Homo sapiens: one gene and its partner. The protein of the gene in region 2 interacts with the protein of the main gene of each other region in a biochemical or structural test. Each region holds a gene or a part of one and is shown on either strand. Other genes may lie near its edges. The genes, in order: BCL2 and HRK.

Region 1 (2,791 bases), on a different chromosome or scaffold from region 2:
TCCTACAAAATACAAGAGGCCAATACCTACCTTGAAAGGTTTGAGAGCAAAAGGTAGTATGCATACAGTGTTGTATCCAGCAGGTGCTCAACAGATGAATGCTACTATCAGAGTCCTTTTAATTGAGTCTAAGTGATGTGACTTGAAGGGTTGAGGATTAGGGTATCAGGACCTGAACCCAGTGGGAAACATCAGATCCCTTGCCATTTAGGGTTCACCTGCTCCAAAGCAAGTAGCTGCTTTGGTTCCATCTAAAAATGTTGACTTCAAAACAGAACTTTCAGCTTATTTCCCTCTTTTTCATACACATTTCATCTTATAAAATGCAGAGGCTGGGATCTCTGGTCTATATGGAAGAACACACTCAACAGCAACAGTAGCTCTCCCAGGGAGTAGAACTCAAGACTGGTCTATCTTGTACCTAACCAGGAGGGTTATTACCAAGAAACAAGAGTCTCCTTCTAAGGTGGTTTCACCTGTAAGGCAATCCCTTAGCCTGGTCCCTGAGGGCTTCATTAGAGTAGGGTCCTGGTGATTTTACTGGCTTGTTAAGAAGGCTTTTCAAAGTCTTGTGTAATGATGATGAATGGCAGGGCAAAATCATGTTAACACATTATAAACAATTCCAGGCACAACCAGTATCTCACACTGTACTTTATTTTTCTTCACAATATTAACTAGACAGACAAGGAAAGTTTAATGGCAATGTGACTTTTTCCAACAACACAAACAAAGTGCCATTATAGCTAATGGTGGCCAACTGGAGACTTACTTTACCTTAACCATGTAAAGTATCCTTACCGTATTTTTTATGTGTACAGTGTTGCAGAATATCAGCCACCTCTTAAAAGTATCAATCTTAAAAAGAGCCATGGAAGGTAAAAGTATGAAAATCTTGATAACAAAAGCTTTCAATACAAAAACACTTATTGTACACTTATTTTTATTTAAAACAAAAATAACCCCAGTAACTCAAAACAAAAGCAAACCTTGGTTGAAAACTTAAGAAGGTATAATAAACAAAACCACCAAAAGAAAGCTTCCCCAAAAGAAATGCAATCCACTGTCACTCTTGCAAATTCTACCTTGGAGGGAAAAACTTAATGAAATGAGCTATCTGGAGGGCCCACGGCAGATTTTCCAAAAGGTTTAGGTGCATGGATTTACTCAGTATCTACACTACAGTCTTATTTATTAATAGTCTCAGAATTTTCTTGATTGAGCGAGCCTTTCCATCCTCCACCAGTGTTCCCATCTTCTGTGCTCAGCTTGGTATGCAGAACAACCTTGTTGTTGATAGGATGTTTGCTTGAAGTTATTTTTCTGGGGCAGTCCAGATGAACCGGTACAGTACCATTCATGCTCCATCTGATTTTCTTTGCATCCAGTGAGATGCATATTTCATGATTGTCCAAGGTCATGGTTGTCCAAAGACATGGAACAGAATGATTCACTGGGTAAGACTAAAGGACTTGTATTATCACTCTCCAATTCAGTTTCACATTGCTTAATTTTATAAAATTTTTTTCTGTATTGTACATAATAAACATTTAGAAACAGATGTCCCTACCAACCAGAAGGTTGTCATTAAATATCCTGTTAGTTAAAACTGCACATTTATTGTTTAAATACCCATTAGACATATCCAGCTTGAAATTTATACCATTGCACTGCCAAACGGAGCTGCACTTTGAGCCATGCTGATGTCTCTGGAATCTAAAGGTCGTACCACAAACTTCAAAATGTTTCTCATTTGTCACACAAGGTTCTTCGCAGAGGCATCACATCGACCCCAATACAGGTCCTTCATACCCTTAGTTCTGGTTATTCTGAAAACTTCCAACTCCCTGATCCAAACTTGGGAATGTTTTACATTTAAAAATTCTTCCTCCCTCCCACCCCTCCAACAAATGTCCTTTGTCCCATAATAATTTAAAAAAAAAATCCCTGAAAGATCCAAATTGAATAACAATAAAGATCTGATTGGAACCTTCATAAGCTTGACAATGTAGAATTGTATTTCTTAAAAAGTGTGTAACCACATTTGTCTGGGCTGCAAAAGACACCACAGAATAAGATCAGAATAGAATTTCAACTGACTCCCTAATTTCCTTAGAATGGCTTGTATTTCGAGCCTTTCCTGTTTTTCTCTGATAGAGTAGGTGTACATTACTAACTATAAGTGATAAGAAAGTCTAAAAACAGCCACTGCCTTAAAAGTACAGTTGGAATTAATTAGAGTTTAAGTTCACATTTATAAACTATTTGTTTTAGGATAAGTTCAATTACAAATAGAGACTATTTGCAATTCTGTTCACTCAATAGATCCTGGAGGTGAAAGCTAGACATGTGTTGGGATTGCCCTGATTATTTACATTTAATCTTGATTATTATAACTCCTCTCGATTTATAATCACTTCCTAATTTTTCCCACTGGGCCAGAGCTACATCTTTAGATGATAAGCATTTACTAATAAAACAAAGATCACATATAAATGGAAGGCCACATCTGAACACAGAGAGGTAAGTGAGCTGTGGAGAGAATGTTGGCGTCTTGTTTGAACTAAATTGAGGTGCTTCCTTAATTCTGTGACTTTATTCCAAATCTTAAGCCTGCCAGAGTTTTCTGCCCCTGCCAAATCTTCGGAGACGACCCGATGGCCATAGACCCTGTCAGCTGTCATTCTGGCCTCTCTTGCGGAGTATTTGTGCAGCGAGGGACTGGGAGGGCCGAGGAGGTTCTCAGATGTTCTTCTCCTTTTGGGGCTTTTTTTAGAGCCCTTGTCCCCAA
Region 2 (3,829 bases):
AGTGGGCCTCTGCACGCTCAGCCCCGGATGTCGGGAGGGGGAGGAGGGAGGGGAGAGCTACTGGATGCAAAGCTCTGGTTTTGGAGGAAGGATGCCTCAAAAGCTAGTCTTGGCACTCTTCCCCTTACCAGAATCTCTGTCTATGTAGCAGCCTTCCCCAAATAGACATTTGTGCGTGCACACACACTCCCCTCTCTGCTTTTAGACCTAGATATTTACATAGGCATCTTCAGAGATGTTTTTAAAAAGAAGAATCTAGAGACACATGAACTTTTTGCTTCTCCAAATTCAGAACAGGACCTTCCTCGATTCATTTCATAGACCCAGATTCAAGAGAGAGTTGTAGGGCAGTCTCTGTTCTCTTTTGTTTGTTTGTTCGTTCATTCATCCATTCACTTATTCCCAAGTATGCCAAGTGCCATACTAGGGGCTACAGGTTCAATGACGTAATTCTTGCCCCTTGAGGGGCTCAGAACCAACAGGGAGATGGGAAGAAGTGGATAATGACAGTCCCATGTAAAGAGCACATGCAGTCTGGGGAAACGTGGTCTATAGGAGCCCAGGGGAGGCAGCTCATAAGGGAGACAAAGCAGACTCCTCAGAGAGAGTGGCAGGCCCCTGCTGACTATTGAAGAGTGCCAGGAAACTAACCAGGATAAGAAAATGAGGCATCCTAGGCAGGGCAGAAAAAACAGCCCATACCCAGGAGCATCCACCACAGAATGCACAAAATGTGTGCACAAATGCTCATGGCAGAATTATCCATAATAGCAAAATACGGAAACAACCCAAATGTCCATCAACTGATGAATAAACAAAATGTGGTCTTTCCATACAATGGACTATTAGTCAGCCATCAAAAAGGAATGAAGTATTGATACGTGAAGATGGATGAACCTTGAAGGCATCATGCTAAGTCAAAGAAGCCAGACACAAAAGGACACATATTGTGTGATTCCATTTATATGAAATGTCCACAACAGGCAGATCTTCTGGGACAGAAAGGAGAATGGTGGTTGCCTAGGGCCGGGGCGGATAGGAGGAATTGGGGAGTGATACTCATGCGCATGGGGTTTCTTTCAGGGAAACGAAAATTTTCCAAAGTTGACTGTGAAGATGGCTGCAAAATTCTATGTATACTCCTCATCATTGACTTGTACACCTTAAAAAGGTAGGGTTTTTTGTTTGTTTGTTTGTTTGTTTGTTTGTTTGTTTGTTTTTGAGACAAGGTCTCGTTCTGTTGCCCAGGCTGGAGTGCAGTGGTACGATCTCAGCTCACTGCAACCTCTGCCTCCTGGGTTCAAGCAACCTCTGCCTCCTGCCTCAGCCTCCCAAGTAGCTGGGACTACAGGTGCATGCCATCATGCCCGGCTAAATTTTTGTATTTTTAGTAGAGACTGAGTTTTGCCATGTTGGCCAGACTGGTCTTGAACTCCTATCTTCAAGTGATCCACCCACCTCAGCCTCCCAAAGTGCTGTGATTACAGGCATGAGCCACCGTGCCCAGACTTAAAAGGACAGATAAGGTGGCTATAAGTTAGCGGGGGAGATAAGAACGTATCACCCGTTATTCTAAAGCAGGTGGCATATGAACGAGCATGTGGGTAATACACACCAAGTGATATAGGAGAGAAAGTGGAAGGGAGATCACTTTATGGCTTCTGGGTTTGAAAAAGTCTGAGATGTTGACTTGCATGAACTGTAGCAGCTGGTACCCTTGACTTCTGGCTTCCTTCTGGGTTTGGCCAACAGGAGGCACTAATGGGAAAGTAAGATCAGGTGTTTGTTCCCCAGCTCCCCTCCCACTGGTCAGAGGTTGGCCACAGCCGCTGTCTGGACTCTGGTACAGTGACACCCTCCTGGAGACTCCAGGTCCCATTCCTTACCCTGGCACCTTCAGGCCAGGGTGGGAATAGCTCCCCTCTATGGCCAAGCCTGGGTACTGCATTCACTCTCGCTGGTTTCCCAAACCCTGCCCACGCCTTTGCTGTTGAAGCTGTCCTAAATTCTCCTCTGATTACTGAGTTTGGAAACACTTTCTGCCTCTTACTCGGGCCCTAATGGATACATCTGACTGCATGAAAGATATGAGTCATAAACACATGGACCCCATAGTCTATGTCAGCTGACAGTCACAAGGATCCAAATCAGTGACTTCAAACCTTTTGCTTTTTTTTTTTTTTTTAAAGAAACTGGGTCTCGCTCTGCCACCCAGGCAGGAGTGCAGTGGCGCCATCATAGCTCACTGCACCCTCGACCTCCTGAGCTCAAGCGATCCTCCCACCTCAGCCTCTAGCTGGGACTATCGGCATGCACCACCACATCTGGCTAATTTATTATTTTTATTTTTTCTTTTAGAGACAGGGTCTTTCTATGTTGCCTAGGCTGGTCTCAAACTCCTGGCCTCAAGCAATCGTCCCGCATTGGCCTCCCAAAGTGCTAGGATTACAGGTGTGCGCCACCACACCAGGCCAATTCCCCTTCTATCTCACGAGGGCACAAACACAGTAGGAACTCTGCATTGTTATGTAGCCACCATATATTTTCATAGAATATGGAATTAGTCATCAATCAACTCAATTGATAAATACATTCTAAATTTAGTTTATGAAACCAGCTTTTGTAACCCCTAAACATCTCTGTTGGTGTCTAGCCATAAACCTACAGAATGAAAGTCAGTGTAACCCTGCAGCATTAGCCTAAAATAATTATGCTGCCTTAAGCACAGGTGGGATGGAAGGAGAGACAGGAACACTTATTAAGTACCTATTATGCTATTGAGTGTGTGGACATCGTGCTAAGCATGGTTATCCGCACCAGATAAGGCCAGGTGCCTGCTTTAAATTTGCCTCCAGGCTTACTGGAAGGATATGCCATGCCAGAGACCAGTACTGTAAATGACCAATATCTGGAGGTGAACCAATAGCCTAGAAGTCAGAATGGGGTTACAATTACCAGGGAAGCTTCAGCGCGGACCCAGGATTTGATCAGGACCTAGAACACACACACATATTTTTTCCATATTTGGAAAAAGGAAGCGTGGCTTAGGTGGGGGAAGGGCCCAAACAAGACCAAGGACAGTGATAAGCATGGCACAAACAGGGAAGCGTGATGAGCAGGGAACTGTATCAGAAAGTTGTAGGAATTGAGGCCAGGTGCTATGGCTCACGCCTGTAATCCCAGCACTTCAGGAGACTGAGGAGAGAGGATTGCATAAGCCCAGGAGTTTGAGGCTGCTATGGGCTATATTTTATATATATAGGGTTTCTTTCTTTCTTTTTTCCAAGCAGCAGTAGTAATCGTGCAATTTAAAACTATTTTTAAAACATCAAGTCCATCAACCCCTGTGAGCCACTGCCCCACCCTTGGGATGTGTTCCCTTAAACTTGGCTCGTAAAGAATTTTCTCAGATGCTAACTCACAGCCAAAACTCGTGGCTGAAGTGATTCATGAAATACCTTTGAAAAAATGTCCCTGTTTCCATTTTTCATCCACCGTGTGAGGGGGGAGGCGGGCAGAGAGGGAGAACTTGAACCCACAAGGTCCTGCCTCCGTGGGCTGCAGTGATGTTGTGCCGCTTTGGGTATGGAAGGTGAAAGCTGAAAACCGTAAACCCCAGTGCAGCATTAGATGGGGCAAGAGGCTTATTCCCTTTTTCTGATGTCAGCAAAGAATTAGGACTCTTGGATTCCCTCCTAAGAGGCCCCAATTTTTAATTAAAAAAAAACCTTGGCCGGGTGTGGTGGCTCTTGCCTGTAATTCCAGCACTTTGGGAGGCCAAGGAGGCCAGAAGTTCGAGACCAGCCTGGGCAACATGGCAAAACCTCAT

What was found.
Region 1: the proteins of HRK (region 2) and BCL2 interact in a test that uses a peptide from one of them, tested with the Homo sapiens proteins (one study listed by BioGRID).

What each region holds. Positions count from the first base shown.
Region 1 is NC_000018.10:63,122,710-63,125,500, forward strand, and holds the end of BCL2 (apoptosis regulator Bcl-2), read right to left. Parts: 3' UTR 637-2,791; downstream 1-636. UniProt on the Homo sapiens protein: Suppresses apoptosis in a variety of cell systems including factor-dependent lymphohematopoietic and neural cells. Regulates cell death by controlling the mitochondrial membrane permeability. Appears to function in a feedback loop system with caspases.
Region 2 is NC_000012.12:116,861,529-116,865,357, forward strand, and holds part of HRK (activator of apoptosis harakiri), read right to left. Parts: intron 1-3,829. UniProt on the Homo sapiens protein: Promotes apoptosis.